Linked DNA regions of Homo sapiens. The protein of the gene in region 6 interacts with the protein of the main gene of each other region in a pairwise test. Each region holds a gene or a part of one and is shown on either strand. Other genes may lie near its edges. The genes, in order: FOXR2, GLYR1, RPA2, PLEKHO2, RBM41, CCNC and CRX.

Evidence for each region.
Region 1: the proteins of CCNC (region 6) and FOXR2 interact in binary tests that used the Homo sapiens proteins (3 or more experiments, as listed by UniProt).
Region 2: the proteins of CCNC (region 6) and GLYR1 interact in binary tests that used the Homo sapiens proteins (3 or more experiments, as listed by UniProt).
Region 3: the proteins of CCNC (region 6) and RPA2 interact in binary tests that used the Homo sapiens proteins (3 or more experiments, as listed by UniProt).
Region 4: the proteins of CCNC (region 6) and PLEKHO2 interact in binary tests that used the Homo sapiens proteins (3 or more experiments, as listed by UniProt).
Region 5: the proteins of CCNC (region 6) and RBM41 interact in binary tests that used the Homo sapiens proteins (3 or more experiments, as listed by UniProt).
Region 7: the proteins of CCNC (region 6) and CRX interact in binary tests that used the Homo sapiens proteins (3 or more experiments, as listed by UniProt).

Annotation. Positions count from the first base shown.
Region 1 is NC_000023.11:55,622,262-55,626,199, reverse strand, and holds FOXR2 (forkhead box protein R2), read right to left. Parts: upstream 2,801-3,938; 5' UTR 2,489-2,800; coding exon 1,553-2,488; 3' UTR 8-1,552; downstream 1-7.
Region 2 is NC_000016.10:4,837,289-4,840,788, reverse strand, and holds part of GLYR1 (cytokine-like nuclear factor N-PAC), read left to right. Parts: exon of another isoform or gene 1-537; intron 538-1,109; exon of another isoform or gene 1,110-1,546; intron 1,547-3,500. UniProt on the Homo sapiens protein: Cytokine-like nuclear factor with chromatin gene reader activity involved in chromatin modification and regulation of gene expression. Acts as a nucleosome-destabilizing factor that is recruited to genes during transcriptional activation.
Region 3 is NC_000001.11:27,908,076-27,911,575, forward strand, and holds part of RPA2 (replication protein A 32 kDa subunit), read right to left. Parts: intron 1-3,500. UniProt on the Homo sapiens protein: As part of the heterotrimeric replication protein A complex (RPA/RP-A), binds and stabilizes single-stranded DNA intermediates that form during DNA replication or upon DNA stress.
Region 4 is NC_000015.10:64,844,915-64,848,414, reverse strand, and holds part of PLEKHO2 (pleckstrin homology domain-containing family O member 2), read right to left. Parts: intron 1-3,500.
Region 5 is NC_000023.11:107,066,823-107,070,322, forward strand, and holds part of RBM41 (RNA-binding protein 41), read right to left. Parts: coding exon of another isoform or gene 3,368-3,500; exon of another isoform or gene 2,581-3,367; coding exon 2,433-2,580; intron 872-2,432; coding exon 705-871; 3' UTR 1-704. UniProt on the Homo sapiens protein: May bind RNA.
Region 6 is NC_000006.12:99,544,661-99,548,160, forward strand, and holds part of CCNC (cyclin-C), read right to left. Parts: intron 1,815-3,500; coding exon 1,735-1,814; intron 571-1,734; coding exon 452-570; intron 1-451. UniProt on the Homo sapiens protein: Component of the Mediator complex, a coactivator involved in regulated gene transcription of nearly all RNA polymerase II-dependent genes.
Region 7 is NC_000019.10:47,824,937-47,828,436, reverse strand, and holds part of CRX (cone-rod homeobox protein), read right to left. Parts: intron 1-3,500. UniProt on the Homo sapiens protein: Transcription factor that binds and transactivates the sequence 5'-TAATC[CA]-3' which is found upstream of several photoreceptor-specific genes, including the opsin genes.

The DNA.
Region 1 (3,938 bases), on a different chromosome or scaffold from region 6:
TGACTACTTATATGCAGAATATTTTATTAATTCCAAGGTATTCTGTTAACTTGGTCTTTGCCTTATGATACAGAAGTAGCATTTACAATTTTTTTCAAAAAATACTGTTTGCATATGTTGTTTTGTGATTTAACCTAAATATACAATTTTGTATGAGGTATAATACATCATTATAAAAATGTGAACTTTGAAAATAGTTACAATTATATTGAATTAATTGCTTTTGTAGCTTACAGGCGTTTTTGTACCCCCATTATGAAGGTTTTGCAACTAAATTTATACCTAAAAATCTATTTTCTCCTGGATATATGTTAATATCATTGAAGCAAAAAGCTATGCTTAAATCTGATAAACAAAAGTTTATTTGCATAGAAAAGATGTTAAAGATAATTTTGAAATTAGAAAAACAAATGCTGTAGTGTTTGTTGTTGCTGCTGGCTTGTTTCTTTTTTTGTTTTTTAGCAAAACTCCACTGATGTCTCTTGGCTCCTAAAAACCCACAAGATGAAGTCCAAACACCTAATAGTTTTCTCTTAGTCACTCACGGTCCTCATGTAGTTAAGTCACACTGAACTTCATGCCATTCCCCCAAACACTCCATCCACTTTGTTCACATTGTTGTCTCTGTAATGCCTCTACTCCAGTTTGCCATTTATTCTTCAAAACTAGCTCAAAATGTATTTTTTCCAATGCCCTTTCATGTCTTTCCCAGGAAGAATGTCTCCCCATTTCCATGTCAATTTCTCACATCTGTTTCATCATATTTACATTATAAATATGTCTCCCACTAGTATCCCTCAGCTTTTTATCCTCAGCATCTAAGATGGACCTTGACACATTAGCATATCCTCAATAAAATCTTGAGAACTAAAAATAATAGAAAATAAAGCTTTATCATCAAAAGGCTTGGGGTTAATACAGGAATATTTCACAGGACGTTAAACATACAAACTAAAAGTAGCTGTTTAGAATTATTTGTCAATATTGGAATTGGATGACAAAGAAACAAGGCTTAGAAGTCCAGGGCCAGAAATAGAAAAGTGAGGTTCTGAAGGATAAAATGGGTTACTTAAAAAGGAGATGTAGCTGATGAATGGTAGAAGGGGAAACTTGATTCTTCATCACAAGTCAAATTCTCTTCACATGGCACTCGAGGTTCTCCATGGCTCGGCTCCATCCTGCCTTTTATGCTTTATATTCCACTGTTCACTTTCATGTGTGAAAATACTCTCTATAAACAAAATTCCTTTCTTTCACAAAACACACCCTTCTTTCCTTAGTTTCTATGCCATTGTTTCTAGGATTTCTTTTCCTTTGCTCAAAATTTGGAACAACAGCCACTCTCCTCGTGCGACTTTCCATGACTCTCCACCTGGATTTAAGTTCTGTCTCCCCTGTACCCACCTCTAACTTTACTTAACACCATTATTGTAACAGTAGCTAAAGACAGACTTGGCACCAACCAGGCTGGGTAAGTTTAGAGATTAATGAATGTCAGGGGATAAGTAGGCACAGTAAGGAAGGCAGTGTTCCAAAAGGGAGCAATGGCATTTCAAAGATCAAAGAGAGAGGTCAACAACTCTGGCTGACTCATGCACTCTTGGATTCTCTCCCTTTGAGCAAAGGCTAAGACACGAGTCTCCTCCCAAAAGCGGCGGTGCCCCTCCTTAGTGAGCTTCCAAAGGCAAGAGCGAGGTCTTGCATTATCTTCATCCTTAAGGCTGTCTGGCACCTTCTCAAAGCTGTCCAGGAAGCAGAGGTTGTAATGAATGGTGCTCTTCCAGCCATCCGGAGCTGTCCAGAAAAAGGGGAAATGCTGTCGGGTGAAATTGTAGATCTCCTGCACACTGAGGCCACAGTGGGGGTTGTTTCTTAATGCTAGGGCAATAAGGTGGCTACAATTGAGAGGGGGCCTTTGCCAGGACTTCTCTTGGTTGTTGATTTGCCATAGTTTCTGGCTCTGGTAACATTTCATTTCAGGGGACTGGAGGGAGTTGTCGTCTGGTTCCTCAGCCTCCTCTTCTGTGAGCTCAAAGTCACTGGGGGAATGGATACCCTGCTTCTGTAAAGGAGACTGCTCACTGGAGGAAGATGGCAGAGACTCTACCACTTTGTCCTCTGAGCAGTTAGACCCTTCGTCTTTTTGTGGGGGCTGAGGGAAAGGAGAAATGTTTGTCAGATCCTCTTTTCCACTGGGCTTTGGGGCCTCCTGGCTGCCAAGGGGGCACAGGATATTGGGGTCCACCCACATCCACAGATTGGGTTCACAGGGAGGACCATCTCCATCAGGACTGGGTCTCCTCTTCTGAGGCATTTCTGGGGGCTTCATTACTCCGACTCTGTATTTGGCAAGGATTTGCTCAGCTAAAGAGCACTGGTCTGTGGTACAAGGCAGAAATAACTCATTCCTCATGTCCCAGTCCAGCAGCCCTGGGACCTGGCCATGGAGACTATACCAAAATTCACAGTCTTTTAGTTTTAAGTCCATCTTTACTGGAGAGATAGGTGGAGAGAGACTTCTGAAAGAACAGATATCTAGCAGGCACTTAAAGCTGTCCTTTGGGCATCATTTTTTTATGCAGTGTATCTCATCTAGGGAGCTTATCAGTAGGCCTGCTAGAAGCACTGAAGAAAGAGGCACCAATGTCTCACTGATTAGTGGTCAGACCTGGAGAAACCTCAGCTTTCTGGAACAAGGCTCAAAACATGGAAGTAATAAAAAAGAGCTTTTGAGCAGAAAAACATTTTTAGGTGGAATTCTTGAGCTTTGATTGGAAGCAGAAAGTCACTTCAAGAGGAATTATAAACTGAATTATGTGCAAACTATGGTGACTTGCATAATAGGTGATCATCTGGCACATATTTAAACCCTTGATGAGTTCATTTAAGGAAGGGACAAACATATGTATAGATCACATTATATTTCTGAGTCTTCCTTAATGGTTTTAAAAATCATTTCATTCATCGAGTGCCTTTGGATTTTGGTTAAGTGCTTTCACATAGATGATCTCAACTGATTTTCATCACAGCCCTGCAAGATAACATGGTATTATTATCCTCATGTCACAGACATGGCAACTGAGATATACAGACATGAGTAAGTAGGAGAGCTAGATCCACAGCCCAGATCTTTTATTTTCACTATACGCATTGCCTCTTGATCATACTCAACATACGATATACAACAGGCAGTAATATGTGCAACCTGAGTTTTATAGTAAGATGGTAACTATCAGAACATGGCCTCTATTATTCTCATACTGATACTAGAATCTAACCTTGCTGCCGTTTTCAATCCTTTTCTGGGAAACAGCTGGCTTTCCTCTCTCCAGGTCACCTTCTTAGGAAATGAGTTCTGAACTATACTCTGAACAGTAGGACCAAAATTTAGCCACAGTATGCAAGGTCCTGAAAGCCCCAGAGGTTCTATTTCCAGTAAGTTCACACCCAGGACATTTGTAAGAAAAATAAAATGGCAAGGTTTCCTTTAATTCAGTTTGCACAAAATCCATGTGTAAAGTATGCGATATCATTAAAATCACTACATAGGACTATGTTGCAAACATATCCAGCAAATGTCAATGGGAGCTATTGGAGAGGCACTTTAATCTCCATATTGTTTCCATACTCTGGTTCTCTTCTACTCTAATCTTTCATACAAGTGGCCTGAGTTGTCTTTCTACAGCATAAATACAAAAAACAACACAACAGTTGTACCAACTGTTAATTATTACAGAATGCTGTAAGCACTCTAACTCAAATCTTCAAAATAATCCTATGAAGTAGGTACTCTTATTATTCTTCCTTTACAGAGTAAAAAACATAAGGCACAAAAAAGCCTAAGTCACAGAGCTAGTAAAGGCCAGAGCTGACTTTCAAACATAGGCAACCTGACTGCAGAACACATGCTTTTACTAACTATACCAATCTTCTCTATT
Region 2 (3,500 bases), on a different chromosome or scaffold from region 6:
ATTCAGGTACCGGTTCCACCTTGCTCCCTGATTTGGGCAAGCTATTTCACCTTTCTGAGCCTCTGTGTCCTCTACATAAGGGGATGATACCCCCTACCTCATAGTTAGGAAGGAAAAGTAGTATCTCTTGTGTAGAGTGTGGCTTGCCATACAGCAGGTATTAGCACACATTGGTCCAGGATGCCTTTAAGTATGGAAAACTGAGAGAGATGGAGACTCTCCCTATGGGAGAGAGAGAGAGTGTGTGTGTGTGTGTTTGTTTGAAAAGAAAGGAATATGAGAGTTGGAAGTTCCTAAAGGATGTCAGCCAGGTTTGCTCTTTTTACCAAAAAGGCTTTGAGTACAAAACCATGCATCATTCCACCTTTATGTAAAACTGTATGCGCCTCATCAGGAATACTCTATGGACTTCAGATCATGCTTTCAAAGGGATCTCTTAGAATTGGCCAAGATCCAGAAAAGGGAACTGAGTCAGACAAAAGAGCAGGACTCTTCAATGTGGAAAAGCAAAGACTGAAGGAATCACGGGATCAGGAGGTAGGAAACAGCGAATGGCCTAGAGGAGTTTGGCGATGGGCACTGCAAGTGGATTGTGGTATGACTGTGTTAGGACCAGGGTGAGGAGCACTGCATAAAAGGGGCGTTTAAGAGGTGGTGTAAACAGGTATTGCAAGGGGATTTTTTAGGGATGAGAACTAACTTGTGAAGACAAAGCCATAAGTGGCTCCTGTAGAAGCTGGACTGCACCTCGCCTTTAACACTTGACATCAGGGAGGGGGCATGTGGTCCAGGCACATCCTGGGTGGGGGCACCATTGGTTACTGGACCCTGGCCCAGGTGGATAGGGTCTGACCCAGTGGAGTGTCCTCCGTTCCTGAGAAATACAGGATTTGGTCAAAGATGTTCAGTTTCAAAATTGACACACTACTTAGGCAAAAAAAAGTGTAGTTATACTTTTTTAATATTTGCAAGGTCTTTTATTAAAGAGCAGAAAGAACGGCTCCTTATGACAAGATAATCAGTGATTACAATCTTTTAGAAACCTGATTTTTCTCTCTCCACATCTCTGCCAAAATATCTAACAAATTGTGTTGACATCCCACTGTTAGGAGAGGGCCAGACCTTCCTAATCAGGTGTCCTGGTGAGAGGAGGACTTCTTTATACGGATTCGGCTCCCTGAGCGAGATGGCCAAGACAAAACTGCCCACGTAATTTTTGTATTTTCATGGAAATACGAAGGGGATATAATTTCAGCAAAACCCTGCCAGCTTCACTTGGTGACTACAACCAAAGATTATGTGTCAAGTGCACGAGGGTCCCTCTCTGACAGGTCTGATTAGTGGTGACCCCCCCATCAGAGTAGAGACAGAGCTCACGGTTTAAAAGTTTCATCGGGGCCAGGCGTGATGGCTCACACCCGTAATCCCAACACTTCAAGAGGCAGAGGCAGAAGCATCACTCAAGCCTAAGAGTTCAAGGCCAGCCTGGGTAACATGGCAAGACCCATCTCTACAAAAAATTTAAAAATAAAAAATTTAAAGCTACCATGCCGGCTTGTTCTCACCTTTATACTCTATGCTTGTGTGTGTGTTTGTGTGTGTGTGTGTGCTTTTTCTCTGTCTGTCTCCCTCCCCCTGCCATCTTCTCCCCGCCCTTTCTCCTTTTCTCTTTCTCTTAGCTTCACGGCTTCAGCCCAGGTCACCTGTCTATCCGAAGGCTGAAACACAGGTGAGAGGGTTCATGCGTAGTAGCATGTACCTGTAGTCTCAGCTACTTGGGAGACTGAAGCAGAAGGATCGCTTGAGCCTGGGAGGTCAAGGCTACAGTGAACTGTGATTGAGGCACTGTATTCCAGCCTGGGTGACAGAGCAGGACCCTGTCTTTTAAAAAAGAAGAGTTTTGGCCAGGCACGGTGGCTCACATCTGTAATCCCAGAACTTTCAAAGGGCAAGTCAGGCGGATCACGAGGTCAGGAGATCAAGACCATGCTGGCTAACATGGTGAAACCCCGTCTCTCCTAAAAATACAAAAAAATTAGCTGGGCGTGGTGGCGGGCACCTGTAGTCCCAGCTACTCGGGTGGCTGAGGCAGGAGAATGGCGTGAACCCCAGAGGCAGAGCTTGCCGTAAGTCGAGATCGCGCCACTGCACTCCAGCCTGGGCAACAGAGTGAGACTCTGTCTCAAAAAAAAAAAAAGAAAAGTTTCATCAGTGGCTGTGGATGATGATGGAATGGAGGGAGTGTTCATTTAAATTACAGGTGCTTAGAAGCCACCAGAAACCAACCGGTTCAACAGATTGTGGACAAACAGTGGAGAAGCTGCAAGTGCCTACCTGCGAGTTTCCATAGCAGTCTTCCCCTCCAGTCCTCACAGCAGCCCTTTCAGGAAGTGCACAGGGTCATCTTTCTGGTTCTTATTTTTTCACAGATGAGGAAACTGAGAGACCAGTGGTCCTTTTCCACCAAGCCACATCTAAGGTGGACCGGTCTCGCTGGATGTGAGGTGTCTGAGTCAGTACTGAAAGTAGCTGCTCTAGAAGAATATGTGGTTAATAATTAGAAGCATAGCAGCTTGGAAGCATCCCTTTTTCGTTTCACCTGGCACCTGATTTGTGTGTGTTTTTTTCTGGTGCCTTTATTTCTGAAGAACTTGGCCTGTAACACCTCAGTAATCTTCAGCCCCTTTGGATGGATTTTTTTTAAAAAGGCACCCATAGAAATTGTTTACTAAGTATTCACCAAATCCAAATGGAGAAGCAAACCCACACCTTCTGGCCCCATCTTTGTTCTCACCTGTATTTTTATTCTTATCTTTATTTATTTATTTATTTATTTATTTATTTATTTATTTATTTTTTGAGATGGAGTCTCGCTCTGTCGCCAGGCTGGAATGCAGTGGCACGATCTTGGCTCACTGCAACCTCCGCCTCCTGGGTTCAAGCGATTATCCTGCCTCAGCCTCCGGAGTAGCTGGGATTACAGGCGCATGCCACCGCACCTAGCTAATTTTGTATTTTTAGTAGAGACAGGGTTTCACCGTGTTGGCCAGGGTGGTCTCAATCTCTTGACCTCGGCCTCCCAAAGTGCTAGGATTATAGGCGTGAGCTACCGTGCCGGCTTGTTCTCACCTTTATACTCTATGCTTGTGTGTGTGTGCTTTTTCTCTGTCTGTCTCCCTCCCCCTGCCATCTTCTCCCCGTCCTTTCTCCTTTTCTCTTTCTCTTAGCTTCACGGCTTCACCCCGGGTCACCTGTCTATGTGAAGGCTGAAACACATGTGACAGCGTTCAAGATTAGTCATAGGCTGACATCTTTAATATACAGTATCTACATGTATGATTTTCTTTTTTTTTTTTTAAAGACCAAGTCTTGCTCTGTCGCCCATGCTGGAGTGCAGTAGCACGATCTGCACTCACTACAACCTCCACCTCCCGGGTTCAAGCAGTTCCTGCCGCAGCCTCCTAAGTAGCTGGGATTACAGACGTGTGCTACCACAACTG
Region 3 (3,500 bases), on a different chromosome or scaffold from region 6:
GCCCACCTCAGCCTCCCAAAGTGCTGGGATTACAGGTGTGAACCACTGCCCTCGGCCAAATTTTGTTTTGAGATGGGGTCTTGTTCTGTCACTCAGGCTGGAGTGCAGTGGCATTACAGCTCACTGCAGCCTCAAACTCATGGGCTCAAGCAATCTTCCTGCTATAGTCTCCTGAGTAGCTGGGACTACAGGCACACCACCACATCCAGTCAATTAAAAAAACATTTTTTTTTTTGTAGAGATGGGGTTTTGCTATGTTGCCCAGGCTGGTCTTAAACTCTTGGTCTCAAGTGATCCTCCGACCTTAGCCTCCCAGTGTTAGGATGACACACATAAACCACTGTGCTGGACTCATGTTGGACGTCTTAGGGGGAAGAGGCAGGATAGGGTAGGCAGAACAGTATCTAGTGAGCACACTCAAATTATATCTTTTTTTTTGAGATGGAGTCTCACTCTGTTGCCTAGGCTGGAGTGTGGTGGCGCGATCTCAGCTCACTACAACCTCAATCTCCTGGGTTCAAGCAATTCTCCTGTCTCAGCCCCCCCGAGTAGCTGGGATTATAGGTGCACGCCACCATGCCCAGCTAATTTTTCTATTTTTTTCTAGAGATGGGGTTTTGCCATGTTAGCCAGGCTGGTCTCGAACACCTGACCTCAGGCAATCTGCCCACCTCGGCCTCTCAAAGTGTTGGGATTATAGGCGTGAGCCACCGCGCCAGGCCCAAATCATATCTTAAAGCAGCCAGACAACAGTGTAAACTTATTTTTGCCTACCAGTGGCAAGAGGTAGTCTGGGTAACATGAAGATGAATATGATGGGACAGGATTTACCCTCAACATATTCCTAATCTAGGGGAGGTACAAAGGTAAACAATAAACCTGATCTTGATACACTGTAAAATGAAACATGCCATGTGGGACCTCAGAAAAGCTTACTGGCAAAAGAGGGAGGCTTTAGGCTGAACTCTGAAGCACGAGAATTTCAACAGCGAAAAAGTAGCAGGTAACAGGCTGAGGGCAAGTATGTACTCCCAGTCTCCTAGAGGGAATATGTACAAGGCACAAAAACGATGAGAGCTCTTCCTGTCAGAAGCCAAGAGGAAGTGGACCAATACCTGTACTACATGGAAGACTTAGAACACAGTAGACTCTTGGCCTTCATGGATTTAGCAGTCGCAACTCTGACCTGAACATCCACGACACTGCCAATATTTCATTTTGCTGAAGCATGATTGTGAATGGTGAGTATTGCCACAACAGGATAAAGCAAGCTCAGTCAACCGCTGGCACATATGCCACAAAAGGCAGCAGCCAAGCTTGAGGGTTAAGATTGTGGCTCTATTCTCAAGAGCAGCTGCTTGGCCAGGCGTGGTGGGTAACGCCTGTAATCCCAAGGCCGAGGCGGGCAGATCATTTGAGGTCAGGAGTTTGAGATCAAGCCTGGCCAACATGGCGAAACCCCATTTCTACTAAAAATTTAAAAAAAAAATTAGCCAGGTGTGGTGGCGCATGCCTGTAATCCCAGCTACTGGGGAGGCTGAGGCAGGAGAATCACTTGAACTCGGGAGGCGGAGGTTGCAGTGAGCCGAGATCATACCATTGCACTCCAGCCTGGGCAACAGAGACTCTCCTCAAAAAGAGAAAAAAAAAAAAGAGCGGTCGCTCTTGGTCACATGTATTAACTCATTTGTACCTCGGTTTCCTCATCTGCAAAACTAGGAATGATATTATAAAAATTACATGGTAAAGGACTCAGAATACTACCCAGCACAAAGCACTCAATAACAAATTTTAGCTATTATTATATTAGCTATTGTTCCTCATTCTTTACATTTGCAATAGCTTTTAATAACAACGTTGACAGGATCAACTTTTTCAATTTTACTTTATGGTATTTTATAGGTAAAGTTACATGCTATGTTAATATTTATAGTCTTAAAATTTGCAGGGGTCCCAGGATTTACCTCTCACAAACTACTATATTTCTGTTTTTACCTATCACAGCTGAGATTTTCATTGTATCTTCAGCATAAGAAAACTTAAGAACCAGTAAGGTAAAGTGGCAAGAACATGAGGTTTGGAGCCAGAGAGTCCTGTAGACCCATGCTCAAATCCCAGCTCCAAAGTCCTGGACACATGACCACCTTTTCTGAAAACTGGGGATATACACCTCTTAAGTTGTAAATGAGACACATAACATATATGAAGTGCTAATACCAATCTCTACATGTAGTAGATGTTTGACAAATATTATTACCTCTCAGGTAAAAATGTTACATATAGGTAACAGTTGAGATGTTAACAATGCCTTCAAATTCATCTCAAATCAAGTATTTATTTTTTATTGAGCATATATTTTATGTAGGAATTGATCACAAGGAATTCCTAGTCTGCTCCAAAGAGGTTCACAAAGTGTCAATAAAAATATGCTTAATTTTGGAAAAACAAAAACAAAAACACTTTCAAACTAAAAAAATTTTCATAGCTGACTATGAACCACAGACTACTCTGACAGTACTTCAGGAAAGTACCATTATTACAGATTAAAATTGGGTCGCTATTTGAAACTTCACATGGTTCAATCATATTGAACAAATACATAATCAACAGGAAACATTTTGGATAGAGTTCTTTATCACCCAGGGATGGTGCTGCACACCTGTAATCCTAGCTACTTGGGAGGCTGAGATGGGAGGATCCCTTGACCCCTGGAGTTAAGAGTCTGTGGTAAGCTATGACTGCACCACTGCACTCCAGCGGGGGTGAAAGTGAGACGGTCTCAATTTTAAAAGAAAAAAAGAATAGGGCGTTTACCTAACTTTTAACTGTGGAAAATACTAGATTTAAAAACAAAACAAGGCCAGGCGCAGTGGCTCATACCTGTAATCCCAACACTTTGGGAGGCCAAGAAGAGCAGATCGCCTGACGTCAGGAGTTTGAGACCAGCCTGACCAACGTGGCAAAACCCCGTCTCCACTGAAAATACAAAAATTGGCCAGGAATGGTGGCATGCGCCTGTAGTCACAGCTACTCGGGAGGCTGAGGCAGGAGAATCGCTTGAACCCAGGAGGTGGAGGTTGCAGTGAGCTGAGATTGTTCCACTGCACTCTGGCCTGGGCAACAGAGAGACTGTCTCAAAAAAAAAATAAAAATAAAAACAAAAAGACTGTCCGGGTGTGGTGGCTCATGCCTGTAATACCAGCACCACGGGAGGCAAGGGTGGGAGGACTGCTTTAGCCCAAGAGTTTGAGACCAGCCTGGGCAACATAGTGACACCCTGTCTCCACAAAAAGAAAAAAAAATTCAGAGACTGGGATTGAGTCTCCAACTTACAAGCATTATTCTCTGAAAAGCTATCTTAATACCCAGCTTTTAGGAATTCTGAGATAAAAATTATAATAACCAGAATGGAGAAAAATAGTTAAGCTTGGGAAGAAAAGATGAGAACCAATCATCTACCTTGTTTTCTCCTTCACAACCTCAAGAAAATCAGAATAGAG
Region 4 (3,500 bases), on a different chromosome or scaffold from region 6:
ACAATAATAGCAGCAGCCACTTTACTCTGAGCCACTGTATAACATTTGATACACATAGTGTCATTTCACTCTTACAACTCCCCTCCAAGATGGTAGCCTCATTATCCACATGTCATAGCAAACTAAAGCTCAGAATGGAGGATGACTCGACAGAGTGGCAAACCACTGCTAGAGGACAGAGCCAGAATTCAAAGCAGGTCTCTCTGACCCCACGTTTTTCCCACTCCACCATTCTGCTTCCATGTGTTCATTCAATCAGTCAACAAATGTACTGAGTGCTTACAACATCACAGGAGAATAAAAGTAAGGCAGTCTCTGTCCTCAGAGCTCACAGTGCGGGAAAATAGGAGCTGAACAAATAAATACCCAGGCATACCCATCAACCTGTGTGAAATGCTATACAGGAAACACACAAAGGGCAGCGAGAGGACAGTGGGGGACCCAGTTCAGGTTGGGGTGGCCCAGGAAGGCCACCCAGAACAAAGACTGGAAGGACAGGCAGGCTGAGTGGCAATCTGCCTCTCTACCGCTATGCTTCTAGAGAACCCACTCTGCAGCCCCTTCCGCTTCCCACCCAAAGCAGGAGGCTCCTCTCCCCTCCTCCCCACTCCAGGCAAGGACCTTAGGGTGGCCACCACATCTGGTGAGGGTTCCAAGGACTCTGTCTTTGACCACAGGCTGGCACAGGAGTTAAATTCAAGCCCTTCTCTTGGACTTGGGTAGACACCCTGGAGCCTTGGGGCCAGCTACTGACATCTTGTGCCTCATTGATTGCCTGCTTGGGTGGCTGGGTGCCAGATACATGCCTACCAAATAAGGTTGGGGTCAGATCCACTTCTGGGTCCCCAGCACCCAGCCCTGTTCTTTTACACATAATGGGTGCTCAAGAGGTACGCGTGAAATGAAAATAAAAATACACACCCTTTGCTAACCACTTTGCTTCACTGATAGGTACCCAGAGTCGTGAGTGTGAAGTGGGGGGTGAAGGAGAGGGGATCAAGAATGTGTCAGAATCTAGAGGCTGCTAGAAGGAAATTAGCATGGACTAATTTTGACTACGTTATAATTTACATAAAATTCAAAAAAGGGGCCCCAGTTAAAAGAGGTGTGCCTCTCCCCAGGGATATCCTGTGGCCACAGCTGCCTTTGGAAGAACAAGCCCAGACAGATGTAAGCGTGGTGCACTGTCAGGAGCTGGGAAGACCTGGCTTCCCTGGTCTCTGTCATGGCAGGGGAACCCCAGCCTGGTTCTCACTGTGGGCCCCCACCCCCTTTTGAACTGCGCATTCTAGTGGTGGGGAATCTGGGCTTAGAAGCTGCAGTCATGCAGACTGAAGCAAACCACTTAACCTCTCTGAGCCTCAGTTTCTTCATCTGTGAAATGCAGCTACTAACAGCAGAAGTTGTAAGGAATCCAACTCCACGAGGGCAGGATTTTTGTTTTGTTCACTCCTGTACCCTCAGTTCCTAGACAGTGACTGGCACATAGTAAGTGTTCAATAAACATTTGTTGCTGAGTAAAGACAAAGCATATAGAGCAGTTCCCAGGATGCCCTAAACCTAGTAAACGGCAGCTGTCATTATTGTTACTATTGTCACTGCCATCCTCTCTGGCTCTCAGGGACCCTCTCCCTGGGCCCAGTTCCCAAGTCAGGACAAGCCCTTTCTGGTCTATAGCTGCTGGCCTCAGATCTCCAGGAGCTCCAGGAATGTGGGGTCCCACCTTGGGGTCTCTCCCTAACTTGTAGATGGCAAGAGAAATGGGGAAGTGGGGTGGTCCAAATGATCTTCCCAGGGTCTTCTTCTACAGGCATGGTGGGTCATGCCTGTAATCCCAGCACTTTGGGCCGAGATGGGCAGATCATTTGAGGTCAGGAGTTTGAGATCGGCCTGGCCAACATGGGGAAACCCCAACTCTACTAAAAATACAAAAAATAGCCGGGCGGTGGTGGCGCACGCCTGTAATCCCAGCTACTCAGGAGGCTGAGGCAGGAGAATCCCTTGAGCCAGGAAGGCGGAGGTTGTGGTGAGCCGAGATTGCACCACTGGACTCTTGTATGGTTAACAGGATGAGGCCCTGTCTCCGAAAAAAAAAAAAGGTCTTCCCAGATATAGGAACAAGGAAGTAGAAGGCTGGCCGATTATGAGCCACCCTGTCCAGGAGAAGAGGGATTTCAGCACCCTTTGACAAGAAGGGAAAGGCTCTCCCATTCCATCATGCACTCAACTCCCATTCCCCACATCACCACTGACACCCCCAGGGCCCTAACACTACTTCAGCGAGCCCTGCAGGCTGTCATAGGCCCAGGGCTAGAAGGGAAGAACAGGGAAATGGGAAACCCCACCCCCACATTTCACACTGACAACCCTCCTACTGCAACGGCAACAGCAAGGACAGCACCACCAGCCCCTGCCAGGCCTTCCACCTGATGGGCAGACTCTTGGTTTCTCTTAAACAAGGCAGTGAGGTCTGTGGAGTGTGAAGCTGTTGCCCAGCCACCCACCTCTGAGCTCCAAGCTCGCCTCTTGCTTTCAGGGGACCCACCCACCACCCCAAGGGATCTCACACCCCTTTCTAAACTCTCTCCACTCATGACCTCTCCTGAAAACTTTCTACCCTCTGGAAGCTCCCTAGGGCCACAGCTGGAACTTGTGCCTAGATCACTGTCACTTCTGGGCTGATGTAGCCTAGAGAATACTGTGACTGGATTACCTACAGAAACAAGTCCAGGTCCTTGAAGAATGAATGGGACCAGGGCAGGACTAGGCGAAACAGCACTTTGGTATGGAGAAGGGGACAACTGAAGGGCTACAGATGGTGTGAACCACAGCCCAGCCACAGAAACAGCCACCCAGGGGAGGACTGGCTGGAGGCCAGAGTCCTAGTTGCCTCCACCCAGCCCCCTTCCCTGCCCCTCAGACCCCCTCCCTCCAGGGGGGCCTGGCTATGCCCCAGTAAGTTTTAATAAGGGGCCCCTCCCCTTGGCAGGGTTCACAGGGGAGGTTTTGTCCTGCTCAGCCCAGTTTCTCGGCCTCCTCTCCTCACTGAGCAGCTGACCGCTGTTCTTCCTGTTTTGCCCTCTCCCCTCCCATCCCTCCTCACCCAGGCCCTTTCCTGCCCACTGTGAGCAGCTCCTGAGGCACCCCTAGGCACCAGCCTGCCTCCCTTGGATCACTCATTAAAAAAAAAAAAAAAAAAAGAAGCCAGGTCACCTCAACTCTGTACACAGAAGGGGACAGATGGAACCACAACACAGGTTACGAGAGACAGAGACTAGAAGAAACTTGGTTGGCACCTCACATCCCAGGAAGCTTATGACAACCTTTGCTCTTTGACAAAACCCAGTGATGTTCTGACCCAACTCTACTAAGAATCCACCGTGTCAGAGTCCTGTGCCGGGGCATTGAGAGAGAGGAAGCACAGGCTCTGCCCCAGGGCAACCTTCAGTCTGAGGTGGGTAACAGAGACGCTGTATAAGATAAGTCCCCTGTCTGGTGGG
Region 5 (3,500 bases), on a different chromosome or scaffold from region 6:
TTAACATATATTAGACACTTAATCAATGTTTATTGCTATGAATTCAATGATACTCAATGGTTGCTAGCTTAAATGGCTGTGAGAACACCAACATTTTGATCTAAAATATTTCACTAGAAAAATATATAGCTTTTTGAAGACTGATAACTTGTGGAGGAAGCATTCATTAAATAAGTCAACTGACTTATGAAACTACCTACTATTACTGCTGATAGTTCTGACTTAATAGCATTTGTTGATGCTTAGGCCTGGGGGTCCTACTCTTTTATTTACTAGGTGGATGAAATATGGCAAATGGGCTCTAGTAAAGAAATATTTCAACATTTAATTAGTTTTTTATTTCTGTGTATACGAAGCAGTCTAAGAAAGAATGTTATCTCTAGAGACAAATATTGAGGACCCCAGAAAAATTATAAAGATTTTTAAAAATCCTTAGGAATAATCCGTTGTAATTCATCCTGAGAAAATAATACTCTTTGCACTTTACCCTTCATACTCAGCATATCATCTGTCCTATATAGTCTTCAATTATATAATAGAAAATGTTTTCTACCAGTTCTCTCCAAAAGCTGAAATTACTTTTTTCCCCTCCCTCAGTTAGTTTTTCCTCTTCAACTCCAAACAAACTGGTGTCTATACATAAATCCTAGATCCAAGATTCCAATTCAAGAAAGACCATCCAGGACCCACAATTTATATATATTCTAGCTACCACTAATTTCTGTAGTGCTACCTGTAGCACATGATATGAGAGAAGTCGCTTGGAGATTTGACCGTTGCTTTTTGTTCTTTCCAAACTCTATCACCAATATTTTCCCATGTAGTTTGTATCCATTTACTAGATGCAATGCTTGCCATGCTATCTCCTTATCTAAAAGAGAAAGAAAAAATTTCAATTTACATAGGACTTAATAATTCAATTCTATTCCAGGTTTAGTTTAGATTATTTTGCCTTGGAGTTAAATGTAAGCTATAAGGCCATATAGTCATTTGATTTGATCATTTTTTCTATAATCTCCCATTTGCATTATTAAGCAAAATTAAATTAATGGCAAAAATAATAACAATAAAAACTCAAAATCGGTGTTTGAGGGTGTCTCCTAATTCAAAGAAACAAGTAGAGAAACAAAGACATAGGCAGCGTGCTAAAGAAGTCTAAGCTATTAGTAATTATACACAAGTCTCTATCTTAGGTAACAGATTATAGGTATTATTAGAATCAATCATTTTCAAAATGAGTAACACAAAAGAAGTTATCATGTTATCAAGGGCACTTTGCCACTTTTTTTTCAGTGGGAGAGTGGTTCTGGGCCACCTTATTGGGATAAATAAGTATAAGAACACTTGTAGGCATATTGAAGGTTGAAATGTGAGAATATATACTACATGCCAGGAGTATTCAACTTATGGGTCTAAGAGCCTGGATGTAAGAAATAAGGAAGGGATGATTTGTGGCCAGGAGTTTGTGGAATCCTAAGTAGACAAGTAGACTAAACCAATTTTGTTTCATATATATAAGTACTACAAATTTTTTTAAGTGTATAGCTTTCAAGATTAGTAAAACAGCTACACATTTTAAAGTACTTGCTTTAAAAAGCCTTTTTATTATGTATTTTTTCAACTAATACATCGTATTATGTGGGGCACCCATAAACGGTTTTTTAAATTTAAAAGGGGTTCTTACACTTGAAAAGACTGAAAACCACTGGTATAGCGGATTTAAAAACCTTCAGTATGATAGGAAAGATGATACAAGACTGTATGAAAACAATGGAGGGGAGTTTGGCAGTATTCATGTGTAAAACCACTTGCCCACATATAGATTAATAGGCTATTTAGAAATGACGATACTTTAGGGACAATGAAAGGTACAGATCCTACAAAGCCTTCCCCCAAAACAACATATTATCTGGTCTGTCATAGAAACTGAAATTTGCATATTATTCTTCCAGTTGGATTAGAAGCTATGCATTAATTAATATGCAAATAATATTTAGAAGACTGTATCATCATCTACTAATTATGAATTAGTAATAAATTAGTATATTAGCTTGCTCTCACTTAGTCCTAAAGGAACAGCGCATAAGCCAAGTACATGTGTTCTGATCAGAATACTAATACATTAATTAATGAGTAATCTAATTATAACTTGGACTAGAAATACTATTGTCAGTGAAGGGAGTACAGATTTTGGTAGGGTAAGAAGGAAGTACCAAGACTGGGAAAAACTGAGGACACTGGGGTAGTGTGGCCATGCACTGTCAATGGAGGAGAGGAAACAGAAAGAAACACTGAAAACATATTTTTCGTTCATTGTCTTGTTCTCACATGCTGTGGAGAAATCAAAGGACTATATCTAAATTAGAGAGGTTATAGGTAATCTCTAGCGAACTGAGGGGCAACTGAGTAATCATCTGGATGAAACTACTTACTGGGAAAGGTGATAAAAGCCTGGCCCCTCATTCGTCCAGTCATCATTCGGAATTGAATTGGAGGTCCTTTTTTCTCCTGGAACCGAGCGAACAATGACACAAGATCTCTTTCAGTCACCCGAGGGCTAAGGTTCTTCAGGTATAATACCTAAAACAAATTGAGGATCAACCAAAATATCATATAAAGGAGGTAAGGCACTCTTTGTTTTTTTCTTTTTGAGACAAAGTCTCACTCTGTCACCCAGGCTGGAGTGCAGTGGCGCAATCTCTGCTCACTGCAACCTTGGCCTCCCAGGCTCAAGTGATTCTCATGCCTCAGCCTCCCGAGTAGCTGGGATTACAGTCATGTGCCACCACACCTGGCTAATTTTTGTATTTTTAGTAGACGTGGGGTTTCACCATGTTGTCCAGGCTGGTCTTGAACTCCCAAACTCAGGTGATCCACCCGCCTTGGCCTCCCAAAATGCTGGGATTACAGGCGTGAGACACCATGCTCAGCCGTAAGAAAACTCTTTCATTATGATTAGAATTAGTTTCACATAAAAATGGTGGATTGAACACATTCATTTAATTTCATTCCATCCAGAAAACTCTCTAAAACTATAGGCACTTAAAAAAAAAAAAAAAAAAACACAAATCAACAAGGTCAGGAGGAACAAGAAAAGGAGACAACAGCAATAATAATCTGGAAGATGAAAAATAATTGGATGAGCAGGAACCAACTCAGCACACTGAAGAAAGCTGAATTTTAAACTGGTAGTGGAGAGAGCCAAGAACACACCTGTCACCACTTAAGAATCCTTAAATAGTTCAGGAACTGATAATTTCACTTACCTTCAGAAATAAATGTGAAGGGATGGGGTTAAAATAAGGCAAATCAGTTGAAGGCTGTCTAAAAGCCAATATGATTTTTAAATACCCTCCCTCACAATATGCTATGGGGTAAAAGATAACTTGCCAATCCTGGTAGAAAACTTGAGGCTCATTGTCAGAAGATGGGGAATGCCATACATGGCTGAAGATGTGAACACTGTTTCTGAAAGCAAGGAAACTAAGAGAATACTAAAT
Region 6 (3,500 bases):
CTTTATCTTTACAATATCAGATCATTCATTGAAATTTTTGAAAATTGCTACTGAAATTTATAAAACAGGACAATAGCCAGCAGTGAAAAAAAAAAAAAAAAAAGATGGCACAGAATCAAACTGACATGAAACTACTATAGTTCTGAATTCTGCCCTGAATTTCAGATGAACTTACCTAATTCTGTCAGCTTTAAATTTATGGTATATGACCATATGTTGAGAGATACCTGTAATATACCTCCACTGCATTAGGAAAAGTTACTAATCAGATTAGTGATTTTTTTAAATGAGACATTCTCAATCAAATCACAAATTTAAAAAATAAAATTAACATGGATCATGAAGTTTTGGAAGAAATGTTTTAAAAACTACAAAACAACATAATCTAAGAAAAATATAGTAAGTATGATATATGATTAAATGACATCAATAATTAAAGTCTACAAAGTACCTGTTTGGAGGTGGTTTTGGTTTTGGCATCTTACTAAGAATGGTTGCCATCTCTTTTCTCTCATCGAAATTCTTCCACTGCTCATATAGTTTTAAAATAACCCTGATTATTTCCAAAATCTAGAAGAAAATATTTGAAAAGTTCTCAGTGGCAAAAACAAGCAACATTTTTTATATAAAGAGCATACATCACTACACAACCCTCAGAAAACAGTAAATAGTCTCTGTCCTTAAATCCTGATAAATTTGAAAGCAGTATTTTTCACCACAGTGCTGTTTAGGATTTTCCTTCTAGCATCTCATTTTTCAGCATGTGTGCATTGTCCATTCTTATCTATCTCTGCAGCTGATTTCCTTCCATCTGATGGTATCTTTTAAACTGAAACATACTAAGAATAAAGGTTCTAATCATGAGGGAATATACCACTATAGAGCACACTCCTCTAGTATAAATTATTTTAAACAACTTAATCGGGGGTAGTGCACAAAAGATGTTTTGATTCTCTGTTACTACACATACATTAAGGTGCTCAAAAACTGGCAGCTACAAATTTGAAACAACTAGTTAACAAATTAGCTATTTTTTTCCCACCTGAGTAGAACCTAACCTTAGGATTAATTTTAATGCATTTAACACTTGAGCAGAAAAGCTAGAAACACAGCAAAAGCCATTCTGCCAGGAGATAGGCTATGTTACAGAAGTTCACAGTAGTATTCAGTGGTTACCAGGGAGCTTTTAAAATAATCCTGGGAATGAGAGGCTACTTTGCAACCAATTAAACCAAAAGTTTACCATTCTGTTTAATCCTAAACTGAAAAGAGATACATAACTTAAATAATCAGCATTAACTCTTCCTACCAAACTTTTTTTTTTTTTAAACGGAGTCTCGCTCTGTTGCCCAGGCTCGCGTGCAGTGGCACGATCTTGGCTCACTGCAACCTCTGCCTCCCAGGTTCAAGCAATTCTGTCTCAGCCTCCCGAGTAGCTGGGAGTACAGGTGCATGCCACCACACCCAGCTAATTTTTGTATTTTCAGTAGAGACGGGGTTTCACCATATTGGTCAGGCTGGTCTTGAACTCCTGACCTCAGGTGATCCGCCCACCTAGGCCTCCCAAAGTGCTGGGATTACAGACACAAACCACCATGCCCAGCCCATGTTTCTTAATATTTTGTAACCAATAATCTTCTTAGCCTGGTGGACATCACAAGATTTTAGGCTCATGATAAGTAAATATGACATTAATTTTTAAACATCCAAGTTTACATACAACTAAGGGAATACCTTTTCCATATCCACAGAAAGCTCAGCAAACCATTGCCTGGCATCTTTCTGCTGTACAACACAGGCTACATGTAGGCAAGCTGAAATGAAAATGAGAGACAACTGTCCATGTTTAACTGCAAACACAGAATATATGATCTAACAAAGATTTTTCACTATTTCCTGTGTATTTTCCAACACTCTTTAAAAAACATTAAACAGCTACATATGAGAGTTACCACTGACCATCTCATCAATGTAATCCGAGACAGAAAAAATTACTAGATTACATCAAGTTCTTGACATCTGGTCCTCACTGCGTGCTAGTCATGGTGCAGTTGCCTTGAGAGTCAGGCACGTTAAAGAGGAAAAACATCCAATGAGGAGAGCAGAAAAGGGAAGTTATCCCTGAGTAGTGTACAAAGTAGCCGTTAAACTGCACCCAGAAGTCAGTGTGACAAAACAAAACAAACAAAAATGTTAATTAATATACTAGGTTTTAACAATGTTGACTGTGTTTCCACATTTCAGTTAAAAGCAGTGTTGCCTGGCCTTTTTTCTTCCTTTTCATTATTAGCACATGATCAAGTTATGTGAAAGCTGGGCACATCCTTACAGAATTCAGTGTTGTAATCAAATAAAGGTTAGAAAATAAATGTAATATACTGTATACAATATTAGTTATATATGTTATATACAATATAAACTAACAAAAGAGAGGAATCTACATCATAATTTTGCCTAAAACAATTTCTACTGAGCAGCCTGTATACCCTTAACCCACTCCAGCTTAAGTTATACTCCGTGGTCTGGTTATCCATGTCTTTGCTAAGGATGACATTCTAGGCAAATAGCAACTCAAATGTGAACTGACACACTGGTTGCCCTAAGTCAAGCAAAGCTATGAGTAGGGCTTAGGTCAAGAAGAGGTTAAAAAAAACCAAATGACTGACATGATAAAAACAGGAAATTAAAATACAGTGGACAATGCTATTAACATGGGCATGCATAGAGTACACTGAAGATTGAGGAAGCATCCTAAACCCAGACTGAGGTGATGCTGAAAGGGTGGGGGAGGGTCACTGAAGAGCTGATATCTAAGCCAAGTCTTACAAAAAAAAAAAATGAGAGTGGGAGAAGAGAATAGTATGTATATCAATTGGGAGACGAATTTGGCTAGCTCCGGGTTTCTCAATCTTGGCACTACTGACATCTTAGGTTGAACAATTCTTTGACACTGTCTTGAATACTACAAGATGCTTGGCAGCATCCCTGGCTTCTACCCACTAGATGCTAGTAGCACCCTACCCTAGTTATGACAACTAAAACCAAACATTGCCAAATGTCCCCTCGGGGCAAAATTATCCCCAGGTGAAACCACTAGCCTAGCTCAACAGTTTGGAAGATAGACAGGCTCTCTGAGGATGGGAGTGCTGGAGGCTAATAAGCCAGTTAGGAGACTGCTGTGGTAACATGGATAGAAATGAGAAGATGACTATGAGATTACAGAAGGAACAATCGAGAGGAAGGCACAAAATGTACTGGTAAACAACTACATGTGGGTATTGAGGGAGATGAAAGGGCCTAACTGCTGGGTTTCCAACTAAGGTATATAACTAGTGCTATTCACCAAACTGGCAAAGACATTAAAAGGAGGAACATATTTTGGGGCAAAGTGATAAGCTCAATCCTCATCATGAGTCTGAGGTGCTGGTGGGATGCCAAGCGGAGCTATGTAAAAGGAAGATGGATATAAAGAACTGCCAAGTGGCAAGATCTTGGCTAAA
Region 7 (3,500 bases), on a different chromosome or scaffold from region 6:
TTAAAAATGGATGGTGTTTATTGTGAGCTCCCACTCTTCCGTTCCTCTCACTGTCCTTTCCTTCTCATCCCTCACATGAGGAGGGGGACAGATTCTGTTTATTTTAAGTTGAGATTCTACTGTTCATTCAGTAAATATTTTTTGAATGCCTTCCCTGCTCTAGGAACTAGGAATATAGGAAGAAATAAGACCGCAGCTTCTCTGTTCTCATAGAATTGAACTTCTTGGTTCCGTTCCTAGAGAAACCAATAACAAACAAGGAAAAAAAAATTTTTTTTTTTTGAGATGAAGTCTCACTCTTGTCCCCCAGGCTGGAGTGCAATGGCTTGATCTCGGCTCACTGCAGCCTCTGCCTCCCAGGGTCAAGTGATTCTCCTGCCTCAGCCTCCCAAGTAGCTGAGACTACAGGGGCCTGCCACCATACCTGGCTAATTTTTGTATTTTTAGTAGAGATGGGGTTTCACCATGTTGGCCAGGCTGGTCTCGAACTCCTGACCTCATGTGATCCACCCGCCTCGGCCTCCCAAAGTGCTGGGATTACAGGCGTGAGCCACCACGCCCTGCCTTTTTTTTTTTTTTTTTTTTTTTTTTTTTTTTTTTAATAAAGATGCCATGGCCAGGAGCAGGGGCTCTTGCCTGTAATCCCAACACTTTGGGAGGCTGAGTTATGAGGATCACTTGAGGTCAGGAGTTTGAGATCAGCCTGGCCAACATGGTGAAACCCCATCTCTACTAAAATACAAAAATTAGCCAGACATGATGATGGGTGCCTGTAATCCCAACTACTTGAGAATCGCTTGAACCCGGGAGGCGGAGGTTGCAGTGAGCTGAGATGGCACTACTGCACTCCAGCCTGGGCAACAGAGCAAGACTCTGTCAAAAAAAAAAAAAAAAAAAAAGCCTTCAGAAAGTTTCAAGAACTCCCAGGAAAATAAAACAGGTTGTTATGAGAGTGAAGGCATTTGGGGTGGGTGAGGCATCTAGGAATTTGTGTGGATCTGGAATAGAGATTTCCAGGCAAAAAAAAAAAATTAAAAAAACAGCAGGTGCAAAGGCTTGGAGGCTGGAATCTCACACCGTCACCCTGAGCAAGACAGGGTCTCCAACTTGGTCTTGTTGGAGAAGAAACAAGGCACCCTGTGTGACCATAGCAGATTGATCATGGAGAAAAGCAGAAAGAACAAGTAAAACCTGGTAGGAATGTCACGAGAAGGCTCAGTGCTGACAATAAAATCAAAAGCAGCTACATTAAATCCCCAAAATCAAACTGCCTCCAAGGTAACTCCCAATAATCCTTACCCCCTGATATTCATGCCCTGTGTAGTCCCTACTAACAAGCTGGCTGACGTGTGTAACCAACAGGATATTGCAGAAATGACAGAGCGTGGCTTCCAAGGCTAGCTCTAAGGAAAGCCAGCCGCCATGTTGTGAGGATGCTCAAGCCATCCCACGGAGAGGTCTATGTGGCAAAGAAATGAGGCCTCCTGCCAACAGCTATGAGAGTAAGCTACCATGGAGGTTAGTTCCCCAGCCTCAGCCAAGCCATTAAGTGACTTCAGTCCTGGCCGACATCTGACCACAACCACATGGAACACCCTGAGCCGGAATAATCCAGTTAAGCCACTCTTGGATTCCTGTCCCTTGGAAACTATAAGAGATCAGAAATGTTTATTGTTTGAAGCTGCTCAATTTTAGGATAAGTGTTACCCAGCAATAGTTAACTAATACACAAGCCTTCTCTATACAGGTAGTCATTAAATCCCCAGCACAACCTTGGGAGGTAGAGACTGTATTACTATGATGCTTACATTTTGGTTTTGGTTTTGGTCTTAGGGACAGCATGTCACTCTGTCACCCAGGCTGGAGTGCAGTGGCACAATCATAGCTCACTGCAGCCTCGACCTCCTGAGCTCAAGCCATCCTCCCACCTCAGCCTCCCAAGTAGCTGGGACTACAGGTGTGCCACAACGCCTAGCTAATTTTTTAAATTTTTGTGTAGAGAGAGGTGTCTTGCCATGTTGCCCAGGCTGGTCTTGAACTCCTGGCCTGAGCAGATCCTCCTGCCTCAGCCTCCCAAATTGCTGAGATTACAGGCATGAGACACTGCTTTTGCCTGATGCTTACAGTTTAGAGAACATCTTCAGGCTCGAAAGTGTGACTTACCCGGGATCACACACAGGCTGGCAGTGGAGAATCCAGGATTTCAAGGCTAGAGTAATTCCTGAAGGTCCTATTCCCCCAGCCCCCTAACCTGGGTTCCCTCTGTCCTCTCCCACTTCTCCAAAAACCAATAATGTTAAATATGAACCTCCAGAGAGTGGAGACAAGGAAACTGGTGAACCTGCCCCACTGGGGACCATTTGCAGGGCCTGGAACAAAAGCACACACTTTCATTGTCTTCGCCGTCAAATCTGAGTCAGATTGCCTGGCTAAGCAGTTAACCTTCCAGGAAAGCCAAGAAAGCTCACATTTACGATCACCACTTTCTGGGTTTTTGTTTTTGTTGTTGTTGTTATTTTGAGACGGAGTCTCTGTCACCCATGCTGGAGTGCAGTGGCGCAATCTTGGCTCACTGCAACCTCCACCTCCCGGATTCAAGCGATTCTTCTGCCTCAGCCTCCCAACCTGGGACAACAGGCATGTGCCATCATGCCTGGCTAATTTTTTTTTTGTATTTTTAGTAGAGATTGGGTTTCTCCATGTTGGCCAGGCTGGTCTCAAACTTCTGACCTCAGGTGATCCGCCCACCTCGGCCTCCCTAAGTGCTGGAATCACAGGCGTGGGCCACAGTGCCTGGCCAGGATCATCCCTTTTAACGGATAGGGGAGAGGAGGCTCAGCAGGAGGAAAGTGTGGGCCCCAGATCAAACAGCTGATAATAATGATAAAGTGCTGCCTAGACAAGATGTCAGCAGAGAATAATAACAATAATAATATTGAACATCCACTGAAATCTTTCCCTGGGTTTGGCAGCAACCTGAGGCAGCTGATGACAGAAGGGCCTCCAGTGAGGGCTGGGCGTGGTGGCACGTACCTGTAATCCCAGCACTCTGGGAGGCTGAGGTGGGAAGATCGCTTGAGCCCAGGAGTTGGAGGCTGCAGTGAGCTATGATCCAGCCACTGCACTCCAGCCTGGGCAACAGAGCAAGATCCTCTCTCAAAACAAAACAAAACAGGCCAGGCCAGTGGCTCAGCACTTTGGGAGGCTGAAGCAGGCGGATCACTTGAGGTCAGGAGTTCAAGGCCAGCCTGGCCAACGTGGTGAAACCCCGTCTACTAAAAATACAAAAATTAGCCGGGCATGGTGTTGTCCCAGCTTCTGGGGAGGCTGAGGTACAAAAATCTCTTGAACTCGGGAGGCGGAGGCTGCAGTGAGCTGAGATTGCACCACTGCATTCCAACCTGGGCGACAGAGCACGACTCCATCCCAAAAAAAAAAAAAAAAAATCAATCAATCGAAAGAGGACCTGTCTCCTGGGGAGGAAAAAAAAAAAAGAATGT